3 linked regions of the Homo sapiens genome follow. The protein of the gene in region 3 interacts with the protein of the main gene of each other region in a pairwise test. Each region holds a gene or a part of one and is shown on either strand. Other genes may lie near its edges.

What was found. Proteins that work in one complex are often made in the same cells at the same time.
Region 1: the proteins of EI24 (region 3) and BNIP2 interact in binary tests that used the Homo sapiens proteins (3 or more experiments, as listed by UniProt).
Region 2: the proteins of EI24 (region 3) and TMED8 interact in binary tests that used the Homo sapiens proteins (3 or more experiments, as listed by UniProt).

Annotation. Positions count from the first base shown.
Region 1 is NC_000015.10:59,658,628-59,665,336, forward strand, and holds the end of BNIP2 (BCL2/adenovirus E1B 19 kDa protein-interacting protein 2), read right to left. Parts: intron 5,494-6,709; coding exon 5,442-5,493; 3' UTR 519-5,441; downstream 1-518.
Region 2 is NC_000014.9:77,334,511-77,339,110, reverse strand, and holds the end of TMED8 (protein TMED8), read left to right. Parts: 3' UTR 1-4,082; downstream 4,083-4,600.
Region 3 is NC_000011.10:125,564,821-125,572,484, reverse strand, and holds the start of EI24 (etoposide-induced protein 2.4 homolog), read right to left. Parts: upstream 3,009-7,664; 5' UTR 2,912-3,008; intron 2,382-2,911; exon of another isoform or gene 2,295-2,381; intron 2,196-2,294; exon of another isoform or gene 2,043-2,195; intron 28-2,042; 5' UTR 1-27. UniProt on the Homo sapiens protein: Acts as a negative growth regulator via p53-mediated apoptosis pathway. Regulates formation of degradative autolysosomes during autophagy.

The sequences.
Region 1 (6,709 bases), on a different chromosome or scaffold from region 3:
ATCACCTGAGGTCAGGAATTCGAGACCAGCCTCAACGTGGAGAAACCCCGTCTCTACTAAAATACAAAAAAAATTTCGCTGGGCGTGTTGGTGCATGCCTGTAATCCCAGCTACTCGGGAGGCGGAGGCAGGAGAATTGCTTGAACCTGGGAGGCGGAGGTTGCGGTGAGCCAAGATGGCGCCATTGCACTCCAGCCTGGGCAACAAGAGCGAAACTGTCTCAAAAAAAAAAAAAAAAAAAAAAAGCCATGTTTTCATTTTAAGCCACTCATGGTTTCATCCTTGGATTCCCCATTAATTAAAAAAAAATCTCAACTATGAAACACAAAGTTTCATTATTGTTTTGATGTTAAAATAAAGCAGGCTGAACTCTCTAATCCCCAAAGAATAGAAGCACTTAGACTATAGAAAGGGAAACAAGTGTAAAGGTCTGAAATTATTTAAGAGGTTTATAGGATAATTCAAAGCAAAAATTTAGTAGCATAATGAAAGAAAAATGTGATAAAAAGACAAAGACGAACGTTCCAATTAATTTATTTAAATTCATTAATGTTGCAAAAAATATGATGTGCAACAAATCAAGACACAAGTTATATTCCTAACAGGTCAAAGAAAATATTACATCTCCTTAGTAAATCATGACCAACTCTGGTATTTCTTACAGGGACCACATTAATATCTTGCACACACAGACATCAGAACTGAATTTCTGACAGTACTCGGCTGGGCAACATCATCTTAAGAGTAGGAAAATATCACAGTACATTAATTTTGTCTAAATGACAGCAATGAACCTGTGGTAACAAAAGTATTTTTGGAATAGATATCAAAGTGTGTTAATGTCTTAACAAACTCTGAATTGTGTTCTGTGTGAATAGTGCTCCAAGGGCTGTGCAAGTCAGTGGCCCTGAACATCATCAATATTTACTAGCTAGGTTTACACAAATAAACAAGCAACTGTTAAACGGACATTAAACTTTACAAAGTCCACATACAAAAAGTGCAGTGTAGAAGCTGATGAATGTTATTTTCCAAGTTCCTCCTTAGCCAAACTGCATAAAAATTTCAAAATGCAAATATTTTAACTTCTTGTTAAACATGATTCTAAGACATCCTACAAGCCTAGTATCATTAATTTGAAAGCACGAAATGATTTTCATTTGGTGCTTACGTGCTTTATGTGAATTTTTCATAGCATTTTACTTAGTTCTCAAAACATAAATAGGTCTATTATAAATAGTTGCAACATACTGTTATATTCAAATTTTAGTGTCACTCCTTACTGTTAAACATGCCAGACTACTTTATTTTCAATTATCCTTTAGAACTTCAAAGGAAAGTTACATAACTGGGTCTCACCATTGATCTGATTCTAAGTTCATTCAGAATTTCAAGAAGGGCAGAGGGGGATGCTTGCCAGGTAATTCTTTTGTATTAGCTTAGAACATTTGAGTAGATAATACCCCACTTCCCTCACCAGTTGGCCTTCCCATTCAAGTCTAAGTTCTTGACTCTTTCTCGCAGCAACTCAAACTACACAATTCCTATGACCTATAACAAGACCAGACCTATTTTAACAGCAAAATAGGTCTAACTTGTGAGTACATACATTAATGCCTCTTTTTACTCTATCCCTCTCAGATTTGTGGTCCATTTCTCAAATGTCCATATAGGATTGGAGAAAAAACAGGCATGAAAACAAAATAGAATGGTGTAGCAATCTCTATTTTCAGCCTATCTCCTACTCCCATTTGCTTGAGCAAGTTTAACACTTCTCCACATATAACATGGAAAAAGGAAGGATGAACCTACCGTAACATCTCTACCAATCTCATCAGGAAACTGGCCTGTTCTATCTGATATGTCCTAATGCTAATTTATCACTTGAAGAAATATAAAAAGCCACTTCTGTATAAAACACATGTCCAAATTCCCTGAGCATTCACATAAACAGCCAAATAGAAATGTTATATAGTCTTTTTAAAAGGCCTCTATCAAAAAGCAGATCTCTTACCTTTTTAAATTCTGGAATTACGGTTAAAAAAATTCTAGCTACAGATATATGCTTGCCAATCAGCATATTTCAGTATTCAGTGCACTTACTAGTGATGTCCATTTTGGAAGACTAAATCAATGTTCAGCAACAGTGAAATATGAAAAAACAAAAAAACCAACCAAAAACCCTCAATCCTAAACTTTTAAGTGCTGTAACTGCTAACCTTCTCTGCTCGAACTTGCTTCTGTATGAAGAGACAAAGAAAGAGAAAATATGAATTCTTATCATGGGTATGTATTATCAACTTTTCCCCCTTCAATCCACAGTCTTTATTCACATACCTTGCGTATAGCCTGCAGGTTTTCCTGCTGCATACAAGAAATGTTACCATCAGCAGTCACATATGGTACTTCCCTTAAAAGGACACACATGGCCGGGCGTGGTGGCTCAAGCCTGTAATCCAAGCATTTGGGAGGCTGAGACAGGCAGATCATGAGGTCAGGAGTTCGAGACCAGCCTAGCATGGCGAAACCCCGTCTCTACTAAAAATACAAAAATTAGCCGGGCATTGTGGCGTGTGCCTGTAATCCCAGCTACTCAGGAGGCTGAGGCAGGAGAAATGCTTGAACCCGGGAGGCAGAGGTTGCAGTGAGCCAGGATTGCGCCACTGCACTCCAGAATGGGTGACAGAGTGAGTCTCTGTCTCCAAAAAAAAAAAAAAAAAAAGAGAGGGCACACATACAGTGGCATCTTAGGTAACAACTATGTCTTTATCTCTTTATAAAGGTTTGCTTTCTCTTACTTCCTACTTTTATCACTTTCCAATGCCTCTGCTAGACCCTACTTAGAATCATATTTCTTCATATCTCCCTCTGAGTTAAAGATTGTTAAGCTTAAATTGTGGGGTGAATAGAACGTCTTCCCTTGGTGCTTGCTTAGGAGTATGATCAAGCAGAACACAGAATCAAATTATTTCACATGAAAAACTTCTGACTAAAAAAGGGGCACTTAGAGCCTAGTGACAGAAGCATCAAATTAAGCCAGTTAAATTAGATCCATGATCCCAACAGAAAGATAAAAGTACAATCACATATACTTTCACCTTGGTCAGTAATGGGAAATTAAAATGGAATAATATGGGAAATGTTAACTTAGCTATAGATTAGAAACAACAGACTTAATAAATGCTCTTCCTCTAACCTACTATTATGATCTTAAATCTTATAAAACATTTATTGTGGGTACATCTCTATACCAGATTCCATTAAGGTGCAGGTTAAAGCAGGTATCCCTTTAGTTTACTGATTCACAGCACCTCATTTTCATTATATCCCAGGTGTTATCACTGTTGTCTCTGAATTTTAATGTTTAACAGAATAGTCTTCTACTTTTAAAAAAAATTCAGAAAAACATCACTTTTGCAACATGTATCTACAGTTAGGAGCAATGACTGCAAAATCAAAAATCAAAATAATGCAAAAAAGAGTTGAAGTTATTCTTCATATTTTTTAAACTGAAGAACCAAGTACTTAATGTGGTAGAAAACCACCTATTAAAAACCTCAGCCCATTTTGAGCAAGATAAAGATGTACAGATGAAAGACTACGTTAAATCGTCTACAAATATAGAATCTAATGACAAATTCAATATAATTGTTTATACATAATCCTTATATGGTAAATTCAGAAGGAATGCCTAACTTGTTATTGTTAGTTTGCTTCTTCAACAACAAGTGTTCCTAAAATGTGAGCAAGCAATAATCGTTTTGGCTCAATTCACTGTAATGACATTAGTTCAGGATCTGCCAAGAGCTGCTGGATCTGAGTTAAGTCAGGAGGCTGCTGAGGAATGTTTCATCCTGGGAATCCTCCAGCATCTCTCTCCTATAACTGGTTTTAAGTTAGCATGCCAAGTTTAGGACTGAGGAGGACAAAAAATATAGGAAAGTTCCCTTTTGTAACAGAAGGTTTGTAAGTACATGAGAATGGTCACAGCCACATGTGTGTTCAATCTAGGATAGACTAAATCTTGAAAGGTTAGCTCACATCCACTTCAATTTTGCTACTCTAGGCCACTGTTTTGTAAAATACCTTACAGGAAGGGTTGAAGAGTAGCCATGACCTTCAAATTTGGAAGGTATTATGCTTACCAGCTGTGTATGAGCCTTTCAAGTATATGACACAATATCAGATCAATCTGTTGTTTTAGAAATAATTTTGTCGGTAATTAAACTTTTTGTTTGGAGGCACAAACACAATTTATTTCAATGTAAAGGTACTACCAAATGAAACAGTTTAAATGCTTGTAACAAACGTGTTATCCAAAACAGCACAATATGATGATGCTAAGACTTACAAAATTAACCTAATTTACAGTATTGTCAAACATGATTTCATACAAACTTGAATAAACACCACATCTAACTAGGTCAAACAACTACCGAGTTCAAATAATTGATATGGAAGTATTTTGGTAAAGTGCCCATAGTGAGAGTTTAAAAAGCAGCCCCTGTTTTCTATAGAAAAAGTTGTGACAGTGAATAACTCATCACATTCTCTGCAATACTACTCAGCACTCATATACACTCAGGGGAGCAATACCCTGGACACATAGCTTATTTCACATTAGTGAACAAACTCAAGATTTTTATAAAGTTCTGACTTTGGGCCAGAAGATAAAATGTCCCATATATACATATATACAAACCCTAATTCCTACCCTCTTAAATCCTCTAGTTCTAAGAATGGCTTTTTGACTTGTCTTTAAGTTTAGAAAGGAAAAAGTGTGCAATGCGCTTGCATCTGTACTTGCTGAATTATGAAACAAATATGTTAAATGAGAAAAAAACCTTGGGATGGTACTAATACACTTCGATTATATACATGATCTTTGGGTATTCATGACAATCAGTTTAACCATCTGTTGCCTTATGAAAAACTTAATTTCCTAAGTTACCCAGGAAATGTATTTAACCATTTACAAAAACAAAAATTCTAATATGCACTTTAGAAAATCGTGGTCTTATATACCTGCATATTTCTTCCATAAGACAGGTACACATTAAAAAATATTGCTCAATGACATAAAAATATATATTATTTCTTTCCTTTGCCATTTATGCATATAAATATTTCACCGAAGAAGATGCATCATTCAATAAACAAATGCAAAAACTACTTTATATAAAGTGTGGTTCTCTATTTAGCAATATAAAATATAAAACGATAATAATACAGTTAGCTATTAAAGAGCTAAATTCAAGAAATTTGCAAACCAGTACAGCAGTGAACAGTCCCTTGTATAATACAAAAGTCCATTATGAAAAAGTCAAGTCTATTTTGTAACAGGTTACATAAAAATATGGGCCAATAAATGCATTATGAATGCAGAAACAGCACTGCTCCATCAGCACATTCTTCAGTCTTGTTTGGACTAGATGCCAAACTTACTGTTCATTTTTCGGTTCATCTTGTTTTCCATTAAGTTCTTGATCAACTCTGTTTAATGAAGAATATATAAAATAAGAAACCAGCAACTGAACAATTTTCTTTCTAAAAATAATGACTATTTTAGCATAGAATATTACTCTGTTAAAGACAAAGCTTTGCAAAGAAGCAGACATAGTAAAAACAGTTACCAAACATCATTTCCCCAACCAGAAAAGAGAATTTTTAAAGGCAGGAGGACACTGGCAAGAAATGTGACCGTTGTTTCTTTAAAGATTATAAAATACTTTACATACAAATGCATATAAACTTTTTTTTTTTCTTATTTTTGAGACGGAGTCTTGCTCTGTCACCCAGGCTGGAGTGCAGTGGCACAATCTCAGCTCGCTGCAATCTCCGCCTCCTGGGTTCACACCATTGTCCTGCCTCAGCCTCCCGAGTTGCTGGGACTACAGGCGCCCGCCACCATGCCCGGCTAATTTTTCGTATTTTTAGTAGAGGTGGGGTTTCACCATGTTAGCCAGGATGGTCTCGATCTCCTGACCTCGTGATCTGCCTGCCTCAGCCTCCCAAAGTGCTGGGATTACAGGCGTGAGCCACCGTGCCCAGCCATAAACTTTCTTAAAAGTTCAAATTACATGGCATATTAAAATCTTGACCTGTAACTTGGCTGTGGTAGGGATCCAGGTGGTACGAAAATGGCAGGAAAAACAACTCCCTCAAAAATGATTCTGTTAACTAAAATATGAAAATGCCATGAAGGCCACCAATTATCAATCAATATTTTAAAATTCAGTGATAAAAAATGCATCCTTATAGAACCCATAATTATTCTCCAAAACTTATTGGTACACAGTTTGTGAATGCCTTAAATTTGTTTTGACAGTAAGAAGCCTTAAGAATTTAACATTCAAGGCCGGATGCCGTGGCTCACGCCTGTAATCCCAGCACTTTGGGAGGCCTAGGCGGGTGGATCACGAGGTCAGGAGTTCGAGACCAGCCTGGCCAACACAGTGAAACCCCATCTCTACTAAAAATACAAAAATTAGCCAGGTGTGGTGGTACGCGTCTGTAGTCCCAGCTACTTGGGAGGCTGAGGTAGGAGAACCGCTTGAACCCAGGAGGCAGAGCTTGCAGTGAGCTGAGACCATGCCATTGCACTCCAGACTGGGTGACAGAGTGAGACTCCGTCTTAAAAAAATAAATAAAATAAAAAAAAAGAATTTAACATTCAAAAATATCTAATATAAATTAATTATTGGCTAGA
Region 2 (4,600 bases), on a different chromosome or scaffold from region 3:
CAGCAAATTCTAAGAGACAGTCATTTCCTCAGCCCCTCCCAGTCCAAATTTATAGACCCAAACAATGAAATGAAAACCGTTTGCTTTGATCCTCACCCTGTTCTCTAGAGCACAAACAAATAGTAACAAACAATTGAAAGAAAGTGCTTCATAGTAGGAGAGAGATTGGAATTCTCTATAGTGACTGAGTTCTTAAATTTCTTTAGTTTTAGTTTTGCCACTTTGTTGAGAGATGGGCCTTTTAGAAAGGAAGACATATTTAAAGTATTGATTTCTTTTCCCCCAGTGTTTTATTGTGAAAAAATTTCAGCAAACAGCTTAAAAGAAATATAAATATATTGTAAACCAAAAAGTATCTGAGACAGGTCTCAATACATTTAGAGGTTTATTTTGCCAAGGTTCAGAGCCCATGATGGGGCCTCAGGAGGTTCTTAGAACATGTGCCCGAGGTAGTCGGGTTACAGTTTTATACATTTGAGGGAGACAGAAGGTCCAGGCAAAGCCATAAATCAATACATGTAAGGTATACACTGGTTTGGCCTGGAAAGGCAGGACATCTTGAAGATGGGGGTTTCCAGGTCAGAGGTAGATCAAAGAGTTCCTGACTGGCAGTTGGTTGAGAGAGTTAAACTTTACCTGAAAAGATGAAGTCAGCTTAAGTTAAAGTAAGGGAGGCTTGGCTTAAGTCATGTAGATGAAGCCTCCAGGTAGCAGGCTTCAGAGAGAACAGATGATGAATTTTTCTTTTTAGGCCTTAAAAGGTGTCAGACTCTCCAGAAAAGACCTAATAAGAGAAGGAGATTCTCTACAGAATGCAGTTTCCCCCACAAGAGACAGCTTTGTAGGGCCATTTCAAAATACGTCAAATAAATATATTGGGGGGTAAATTTCCTTTGGGGCCTGCTGTCATGTGATGCTATACCAGAGTCAGGTTGGGATTTGGTATTTTATTGCCACAAAGGGTCTGTTTGGTTAGTCTTAAGATCTCTGTTTTAATGTTAATGCTGGTCAGTTGTATTTAAATTCCAAAGGGAAGAGGGTAATATGAGGCACCCTGTAATCTGACCATAATATGAGGCACCCTGTCTTCCCATCATGGACTAGTTTTTCAGGTTCCTTTGAGATCCCCTGGGCCAAGACAGGGGTCCATTCAGCCGGTTGGGGGATTTAGAATTTATTTTTGGTTTGCTGTATATATATGTATACACACACTCCCCGCATAAATGTAAAAATTTTAAACTACCAATTCCTAGGCAAAGATGATTCTAACATTCTGTTCCTTTTGACAAGTGTCCAATTAGAGAATGCTGAGAATGTCCCCTGCATATCGGCTCTGTTGGAGAGCCCCTGATTTTTAGCAGACCTGTTTCATTCAACATGGGTTACCCAGGAGGTGGTCTTCATAAAAATGTTTCTTGGAGGCCAGGCGCCGTGGCCCACGCCTGTAATCCCAGCACTTTGGGAGGCCAAGGTGGGCAGACCACCTTAGGCCAGGAGTTCGAGACCAGCCTGGCCAACATAGTGAAACTCCGTCGCTACTAAAAATACAAAAAATTAGCTGGGCGTGGTGGCGGGCATCTGTAATCCCAGCTACTCTGGAGGCAGAAGCAGGGAGAATTTCTTGAGCCCAGGAGGCAGAGGTTGCAGCGAGCCGAGATCATGCCACTGCACTCCAGACTGGGCAACAGAGCAAGATTCCGTCTCAAAAAAAAAAAAATTGTTTCTTGGTCTCCATCTTTCAAGAAAATACATCTGTGCTGTATTTTCCCCTTCCCTCAGGCCATGATCTCTGCTGTTTTCCTTACTAACTGGCATGTCAGTACAAGAGTGATTGTGAAGCTGCTCCGGAAGGGCTTTATGCTAACCTCTGTTGCTTGATGACATGTCCTCAGGACTCTGATATTAAAACTCAATCCTTAGATAACAGGTAGCTTTATCATGGAAGTAGGTAGCAATTTGGAATTAGACCATTCTTAGTTATTTTTTTCTTAATGAATTGATACATGCACTTTAAAAAATATTTTTGTTATTTTGGGAAGAAAAACTCAGACTTTTAAAAAAGTGTATATTGTCCCATTATAATATGTATATGGAAGAGTGAAATCTGAACGCTGTCTTATATTAAGCAGTAGAATTAGGTATTATCATAAAAAGTCTTAATCTGTAGGGAATATGAGTTTATGTTTATGAGTCCTGCTCAGTCCCTCTTTGAGAGAATTAGTTGAAACCCAGACTCTAAAGTCTGCTTTTATATTTGTTTGTTAAGACCACTTATCTGCAGAAGGTTGCCTTTTAACCCCAGTGGTTCTAAGGTGTGGAATTGAGTGACCCTAATATTTACATAAGAGACTTGTTTTAGTGGAGCATAAGGGAGGGGCATAAGTTACACCGTTTTGTGCTGCTTGAGAACTGTCTTTTAAAATTGATCACAACGAGGGAAAACAAAATAAAATTAGGGGGCAAAGGGTAGGAGTATGGGGGGAGGGGAGAGCAAACCTATCGAATATATCTTAGAATTTTGCTCAGAAATCACTGCTGCCTCTCAAGTGTTGCATTGTCCCTGCCTAAACCAAGAAGGCTAAACAAAGCCCCTCCTGTTTGAATTCTTAAGGTAAGAAATTTCTAAGCTAAGAAAACACTATTGCCTAAAACCAATGATAGTGGAGCTCATTTACAAATAGGCATGCCTCACACACACAGTCCAAAGGCAAGACACTGGCTTTGAAATTAGGCTCATGATGTGATTCCTATTATATGTACCTGATTTTTTTAGGCCCCAGGTATGTGGACCAGAGTTAATGTCATGACTCTTCAAAGATATGATGAAAAGTTGCCCTAGAAATCTAGAGATGCATGTTTATTTAATTCCATAGTTTAAAAAAAAATTTAAGCAGGTAGTTGTGGCTTATCTGGGGGCAAAATAATATATGTGAAATTGCTTCCAGAGGACAAAGTATATTTTCTAAAGTCCTGAAATAGGATCATGAACCCTTCTGAAGTTTTGGTTTGAAATATTATAGTATATGATATTACCAAAGAGCCCTTAATTCAGAGTTTAAGGGGCTCTCTTCCTGAACTCTCTTCATCACTCAGGGTTGAATGTGTAATGTTCCTTGCTATTGATTGTTATTGTTGATTCTTAGGATCAGGCCAAGAATCATCTGGAAAACATTATCTTAATTCCGTCTCTCATATCCTAAACAGTACATTTTACTAAGAAATTCCATATGAAAAACTCCACTCATGTCTCCTGAGATTATCCTGTAAGTGAAGTAGCTTTCATTTAACCAAGCTAAATTATTTCCATTTAGCCATGTTAAAGAGAAGCCAAGTCTAGAGAAAGCAATCCTGTAACCCATGAATCTGGTGTACCCATTTTCCCTTAACGTAACGGGAAGTGTTTTGAAATTCCCAGAAGAGAGCTGTTTTGTAATCAAAGTGATGGATTATAAGAAAGCCAGACTTTGGAAAAGGATAATTGGAATAAAGGGAGGTGCTTGAAGATTTTCCAAACTACTTTATGTCATTTAGCTTCTATTTTCTGAAGGGCTTTCTTTGGTGCCATGTACTCAGATCAGTCAGTTGACTGAAAGATGATCATGTTTTCTTCGTAAAGATTTAAGCAATTGGCAACTACAAAGACATTATTTTCTTACTGTTCTATATCATGTACTGTTGCTGACATTACAAAAAGGGTCTGGAAGGGAAACCGTGTCACTGTTTTATCTTTTTTCTTTAAAATACAAAAGTATCCCAACTAATCATTTATTATGGTCAGCTTGTTTTACATGTCCCCTATCATGAGAAATGCTATCAACATCTGTGATTTCTAAGAGTCTTACCAAATTGTTACTTTAATTCTTGTGTCCTGCTGAGTGGTTTTTCTTTTAAAATACCATTTTTATCACCCTGTGGCACTGGGTGTGTTACTGCGATTACACTGATGATTCTGAGCTGTGCTTCTTCAAGTAGCTCAGTTCTTGCGTTTTATATTAGGTAACAGTTTTGTGATGCTTTTGTGCATTCTTTGTCATCTCTTCTGAGTTTTCGAATCTGTCATAAATAAACTTTTTCACTATGCACCTGGTAACATCTGAGTTATATTTTAATGAACCTGATTTACATTTTAAATTCTTTGTCTTTCATGTATCTTCCTTAAGAAAGGTATTCTATAAGCCCATATGAATTATTTCATAATCTATTAAGATTGTGAAAGTTAAGAAGAACTAAAAAGAAAAAAAATTGAGAATAAGATTAATAATAGATCTTTCATCTGCATTTAAATTCATGGCAGAGTATCATGACCTGGGAACTGGGAATGGAAAAACTGGGTTTATAGTGATGATTAATAAGTTCTGAGTTTTATGTCAGCATTTGGTCCCAGTGAGGCCTGTTTCCCCATGAAGATATTCTGTTCAAATTTGGAACCTCGACTTCGGATACCAGGCCAATCATTAACGTAATCTGGGTGATATGAATTCAGCCTATTTTCATTTACAAAAAGTGACACCATAATATATCTTTGCTGTCTTTTAAAACACTGCCTCTCCACATCCCTAGTGTCTGTTGCAGAATAAGGACTCACATCTGAGCAGGGAAG
Region 3 (7,664 bases):
GTCCCCAAATCTCTCATCATGAAGGATCTGGAAACAGATGGAACATAATGGAGGCAAATATTTATTTTAAAGATAAGTTACTTCATGCACATTTCCACATGATGACCTCACATACTTGTAGCTCTAGTAAGATAGCAGTAGATTCTAGCACTAATAGAGTGAATCAAGTGAAGCTATTCCTGTACAGCTGAAACCTAAAATCCCTATTTTTTTTCTAAAACACTCACCACCCTTTCATTTTTACAAGGGGTTTTACATTTTACACCCTCTCATTTTTACATTTTACATTTTTACAATGTGCTCTTGACCAGTAACCTCCTCTGAGCCTCAATGCCCCTAACTATCCCTCCTACACATTCTAAGCACTTTTGAGGGTTTGGAGATGGAAGATAATTACATTTCAATATCTTCTTAAGCAATTTTTATGTTTGCTGGATACCTTCAAATACTTGAATGAAAATACAAGAGCAAGATAAAAGTTCTTACAAAAATTACTAAATACATGCTTCAGTCATACAGAGCCCTCGGGCACAGTAAAGTTTAAGGTATGACATGAAATTGCGTACCAAAACCTCCAAATAGGTCTTTTTTATTTTATTTTATTTTTTGAGACAGAGTCTCGCTCTTGTTGCCCAGGCTGGAGTGCAACACTGGGCTCGGCTCACTGCAACCTCCACCTCCCAGGTTCAAGTGATTCTCTTGCCTCAGCCTCCCGAGTAGCTGAGATTACAGGAACCCGCCACCACGCCCAGCTAATTTTGTGTATTTTTAGTAGAGATGGGGTTTCGCCATGTTGGCCAGGCTGATCTCAAACTCCTGATCTCAGGTGATCCATCCATCTCAGCCTCCCAAAGTGCTAGGATTACAGGCATGAGCCACCACGCCCGGCTGGTCTTTTCTGTTTTCTAACTTTAAATATATACAGATACAATTTTAATAAACATGCAATAAATAGTGGATTTTAAACTAGGCCTCAAAAAAGTTCATATGTATAAACAGTCTTTAAAACAGTAAGGCTTTCCCATTTTATTTCTCAGGTGAATGGGATATCTAGTTTCAAAAATTAAGAACTTGAGAGTTCATGTGAGAAATACTTGTAATTAATATACTATTCTCTCATTTAATCTGTGGTGACTTCTAAGATGAATAGAAAACCCACTTTCAGGCATTTTTTAAGAACCTGATATTCTAAAGTTCTCAACACTCACTCAATCAAGTTGCAGTATTCTCAGTTTAAGAGGTATGACCATAATACAAAGACAGAATTTCACAAGCAGCTTGTACAAACCTTAAATTTCAAAATATAAGCACACTTTCCCCGACCTTTAACCACTTCACCAAACTGCTCCTCATTGACCCAACTGGACTAATGCCATTCAGAACTGGAAGAGCAGGGGATATGGCAGTAGGAAGGCAATTTGCCCAACATTGTATATACCCTCTGCTCCTTAGGTCAAATCCTACACAGATAGGCTCACTTCGGATAGAAGTCTCTAGGGTAAGAAACTTCTGTTAATACTCCCACTGTTTCCTCCTGAAAACAAACACCTCAGAGTTCCAGTCGCGTAGGTACAGCCATACAGACATGTTCTCAGGGTTGAGGTGAGGGCAGCTGAGCTAGATAACTAGCAAAGGCTCAGTGATATGCACGACACTAGTTTGTAAAGACTCACAGATCCACTCCCGTAACCTGCCACTGGCTCATCTATAAATTAAGGGTACTAAACTTCTTCATAGGTTTCTTGCATCTAATAGGGCACAACAGCATGAAAAAAACTTAAAATTCTATATAAACACAACCCCACCAAAGTGAGCCAGCTTGGAGGTTTAAGGAAGCCCATTACTTGGCCTGGATTTCTCACAGGGAACTGACAGGGAACCTGAAACATTCTGTCTCAGTCCACAACAGCTGTGTCATTTGATCCCTGGCCAGCTAACACCTGGTTTCTGCATGTACCAAGTGGCAGGACACCTCCTAAGAGTGACCTATGAAGGATAAATCACTTCACTTTTATACTTAGATCCTAACATCCTTCCTACAGGAATATTTGGTGAATTACCCAGTCTGACAAATAGCTGAGGCATGGGGAAAAATAACCTGCCACAATTTGAGAACACACACACAGACTGAATGACACAGGGGGAATCCTACAGCTGAGCTAGACAGATGAAGATGCATCTGGCTCATTTAACAGGTGAGAGAACCCAGTCTCAGAAGTTAAATGACTTGCCCAGACTGACAGCAAATGAATGGCAGCTACAGTGAACCTCAGAACCCGGTGTTCTAACGTTACCTCGGTCGAGACTTGTTTTTACTTAAGCTTTGCAATGAAGATTTTTGTTTTAACACGAGCATCCCATGGACAAATAACCTCTCAAACCTGGAAATACAAATGCCATTAAATTCCCAACAGTCATTAGAAGCTAATAAGCATCTGCTGAGACACACTTTTATTTCTAAGTCACTAAACCCAAGTCTCGGCAAACAGGAAGCTGTCGTAGCCCACTCCAGGTACAGGGAAGGTAAACATCCTCACTTCCCACGGGGCTCCACGGGCTGCCTCTGAGTCCACGGGTCCATTCAGGCCCATCTCCCCACAGCTCCTAGGCAATTCGGCAGAAAACTGGTCTCCCTAGGCACAACTGTGCACGAGGTACGGATCACGCGAGGTGCGGATCACGCACGCTCCGGGTCACACAGGGAGCTAAAGATAGCTGCGCCGCACCTGGGGCAGCCTCGCCCGGGGATGTGCCCGGCCCCGTCCCGCTCCCTCCGGCCCCTTCCCATAAGGGGTCCTCGCCGGTAGCCCCACCAACCCACGCTCGGGCCCTGCCTGCCCTCCCGGTCCCTGCCACTCAGAATGGGCGGCGCGGCGGCCCCGAGGCCTAGCTCGGCTGAGCCCGCACCTACCCACAGCTCCGCCGCCGCGGCTCCGGCCCTGCCCCTAGCCCACCGCAGGCCAGCTCCGCCGGGGCGCTTCCAGGGCCGGGGCCGCTGCGCCCGCACTGGGCATGCCCGGGCCGCACGGGGCCGCTGGGAAGTCGGGCGAGCGCGAAGAACCAGCCGGCACCACGAGGCGGGGCCCAGAGCCGAAGGGGTGGGCCGCGCGGAGCGACGGAGACTGGGAAATGTAGTCAGTCCGGGGTCCCGCCTCGCGCTGCGTGCGGGATCGTCCGGCTCCCAACTCCGCCTGGCGGCGGAGAGGACCCCTCACCCCTCCGCGTCGCCTCCTCCCCGTCGCCTCCTCGCCGATCCCGTTCTCACAGATCTCTCCTCCTGTTCTTTGCCCTCCCCCATTGACTCCACAACGCTGCTTGCGTTTCTAAAATCCTGTGAAATTAGTAACAGGATGCCTTTAATCCCAGCATTTTGGGAGGCCAAGGCAGGCAGATCACGAGGTCAGGAGTTCAAGACCAGCCTGGCCAACATAGCGAAACCCCATCTCTACTAAAATAACAAAAATTAGCCAGGTGTGGTGGTACCTGCCTGTGGTCCCAGCTACTCAGGAGGCTGAGGCAGGAGAATTACTTGAACTCAGGGGATGAAGGTTGCAGTGAGCCGAGATCACACCACTGCACTCCTGCCTGGGCGACTGAGCAAGACTCAGTCTCAAAATAATAATAATAATAATAAATTTAAAAAATGAAATAAAATAAGTGGCTGGGCACGGTGGCTCATGCGTGTAACCTCAGCACTTTGGGAAGCTGAGGCGGGCAGATCACTTGAGGCCACCCTGGCCAAGATGGTGAAATCCCGTCTCTACTAAAAATACAAAAAATTAGCTGGGCATGGTGGCACACACCTGTGGTCCCAGCTACTTGGTCGGCTAAGGAATGAGAATCACTTCAATTCAGGAGGCAGAGGTTGCGGTGAGCCGAGATCGCACTACTGCACTTCAGCCTGGGTGACACAGCTAGACTGTCTCGAAAAATAAAATAAAATAAAACAAAACAAAACAATATAAAATAGAATAGAATAAGGAATCCATCTACTAAAGCTTAGAAATCTTGTTACAAAGAGACCTAAGTGGTTTAATGACAAACTGATTATTGTGCTATTAATTATAATAATAGCTCTTCCTCCAAGCTCTATTCTTTCTCAAGAGTGTCAATTTAGAAAAGATTTTAGAAAGAATTTAGTAGGTATGAGTTTATTCTGGCTTACTTCATGGGAGGAAATCTTTTTTTTTTTTTTTTTTTGAGACTGAGTCTGTCTTTGTCTCCCAGGCTGGAGTGCAGTGGTGCGATCTCGGCTCACTGCAAGCTCCGCCCCCTGGGTTCACGCCATTCTCCTGCCTCAGCCTCCTGAGTAGCTGGGACTACAGGCACCTGCCACCAAGCATGGCTAATTTTTTTGTATTTTTAGTAGAGACGGGGTTTCACCGTGTTAGCCAGGATGGTCTCGATCTCCTGACCTCGTGGTCCGCCCACCTACAGCCTCCCAAAGTGCTGGGATTACAGGCGTGAGCCACTGCGCCTGGCCGGGAGGAAATCTTTTAAATCTCAACATGTATAACCACATTTAAAATAAAAACCAATAATAATTAATACCTTGCATTTTTAAAGAGCTCTCACATGCTTATGTATGATTAGATGCTATTTGTGGACAAGTAGAGGATATTATTTTCCAAATTTCACAAATGAGGAAGTTTGTGGCAGAGCACTTTGAGAAGACATGACCTCCAGTTAAGCTGTGAACCTTAGTTTCTTTTTTTTTTTTTTTTTTTTTTTGAGACAGTGTCTCTCTATCTTGGCTCACTGCAAGCTCCACCTCCCGGGTTCACACCATTCTCCTGTCTCAGCCTCCCAAGTAGCTGGGACTACAGGTGCCCGCCACCACGCCCGGCTAATTTTTTGTATTTTTAGTAGAGACGGGGTTTCACCATGTTAGCCAGGATGGTCTCGATCTTCTGACCTCGTGATCCACCCGCCTTGGCCTCCCAAAGTGCTGGGATTACAGGTGTGAGCCAGCACGCCTGGCCCAAACCTTAGTTTCTTTAACACAGGCTGCTGAAATAAATGGTATATATATGAAGGTGTTTTTTAACTGTATGGATATATGATTTAGTGAAATGATAACAATACTAGATCTAGTGATAGCGACAGGAGACAGCCAAATGCCTAGGCAGTTAGTGGCGGGTCCCCATTGAAACCCCACCTCCAAGCCAAAAACAGTTTAAAGCTCGAAAGCCAAGCTACAAGTTAAGTCCTCAGACCAGATTGAGAACTTGTCTTCCTGTCTTGCATGTTTTCCTCTGATTGATCCCCACCCTTCACCTATTTTACATATACCTACCCTTTCCTGATTGGTTTTCTACACTGTTGTGCCCACCTTTGAGTGGTGCCTTTGCTTTAACCTTTCTTGCATAGCCACAAACCAATCTGCACATACTCCCCATCCTGTGCCTATAAGGACCCCTGACTTAGTCAGTAGAGTGGGAGACCGCCTGACTTTGAGGAAGACGACCTGCCCTTCCTGTCCCTTCTCCAGCTCCCCTCACTGCTGAGACTCGTTTTCATCACTAAAAAAAATTCTCTGCCCTCAACATCCTTCTTTGTTTTTTTCTTTGTTTTTTTTTTTGAGACAGAGTCTTGCTCTGTCACCCAGGCTGGAGTGCAATGGTGCAATCTCAGCTCACTGCAACCTATGCCTCCTGGGTTCAAGCAATTCTCCTGCCTCAGCCTCCTAAGTAGCTGGGATTATAGGCACCTGCCACCACGCCCAGCTAAGTTTTTGTATTTTTAGTAGAGATGGGGTTTCACCATGTTGGCCAGGCTGATCTCAAACTCCTGACCTCAGGTGATCCACCCACCTCAGGCTCTCAAAGTGTTGAGATTACTGGCGTGAGCCACCGCACCTGGCCCGCCATCCTTCAATCCTGCATGTGACCTCATTCTTCTTGGACACTGGACAAGAGCTTGGGACCCACCAAGTACAGGTACCCAGAAAGGCTGTCACACTGGTCCTTTGCCCCCACCAGTGGAAGGCAGCTGCCCCACGTGACAAGGCAAAGGGCCAACTGAGCTACTAACACACTGCTGTTTGTGGATGATGAAACTAAAGGAGCACTGTAACACCCGCTCTGAGGCTTCAGGGTCATGGGCACTTTCACCTGGGCACTGCAGTGTTCCTCTTGAGGCAACATGCCTGGTCTGGCCACAGGCCCCACACAGAGCTTGCTCCTGTGCCAGTGCCCAGAGTGGCTGGCTGGATCTTGAACTTGCTTGCTCATGTGCTCCCTCCTGCAAGTGGTTGATTGTGGTGGGCCTGGTAGACAAGGCGCCCCCTTCCATGAGTTTGTCAAAGGGGCCAAGAAAAATCCTGCATCATTAGGGGCCAGATCTCCTAGCTTCCAGCCTTGGAATCTTCTAGGAGAGAGAGATACTATGATTTATTAAGCATCTACTATACCAAGCCTTTTATATTTATTATTTCAACAACAATTTAAGTGTTGTAATGAAAAATTATCACTATTTTTTTTTGTTTTTGAGATAGAGTCTCACTCTGACACTCAGGCTGGAGTACAGTGGCATGATCATGGCTCACTGAAGCCTTGACCTCCTGGGCCTAAGCAATCCTCTTGCCTCAGCCTCCTGAGTAGCTGTTGTAGCTGATTTAAAAAAAAATTCCATGCCTTCCTATTAAGAAAAAAAAACTCCAACCAGGTTTGTCTAACGCCCGATTCCACACCCTTTCCTCTACCATATTTGTGTTCCATTATGGATCACAAAAGTCTTCTCATTTAAATTTAGGTTGTGTATTGTCATTATTAAAGTAGTGCTCCTCTTTGTTTTGCCTGTGGTTGCTAAAAGAAAAAAAGAGAGAGAGAAAGAAAATAATGAAAGTGTTGGCCAGTATGGTGGCTCATGCCTGTAATCCCAGTACTTTGGGAGGCAGAGGCGGGTGGATCACCTGAGGTCAGAAGTTTGAGACCAGCCTGAACAACATGGTGAAACCCTGTCTCTTCTAAAAATACAAAAATTAGCCTGGTGTGGTTGTGCACACCTGTAGTCCCAGCTACTCAGGAGGCTGATGCAGGAGAATCACTTGAACCTGGGAGGTGGAGGTTGCAGTGAGCTGAGATTGTGCCACTGCACTCCAGCCTGGGCACTAGAGCGAGACTCTGTCTCAAAAAAAAAAAAAACAAAAAAAAACTGCCATTCCTCATGGGTCTTACAGATGCAACTCCCTGCTGGGAACTCAAGCCCTTTTTTTTGCCAGGAAAGGTAAAATCATCTGGGGGTAGAACCAAAAAATGTACAGGTTAATAGAATTATGAAATTTAAGATGTTTAAACAGGGTTTATGTAACGTAGTTGTAATCTCTTTGCCTAAATGTCTTATGAAAATGGGTATTGTATCTAGCTGGAGGATGCTTCCCCTATCTAGTACTATAAAACCAAAGACATGTAAAGCTGCTCTTTTGAAAAGTGTTAGTTGGACATGTTAATGGGAAATAGTAAAATCACCTGAGCCCACAAAGTATCAGGTAGAAGCTAGAGTACTAGTTGGGACAAATCATCCCCTTCATAGCCCTTTGTGGAGTGTTTATTGGGGATAATGGCAAAAAACAAAACAAAACAAAAAACTCTTATAAGTACTTCCCAATGACAACTACCGGACTAGAGAATTTCCACTTGAGGTGCATTTACTGCCTTGCTATG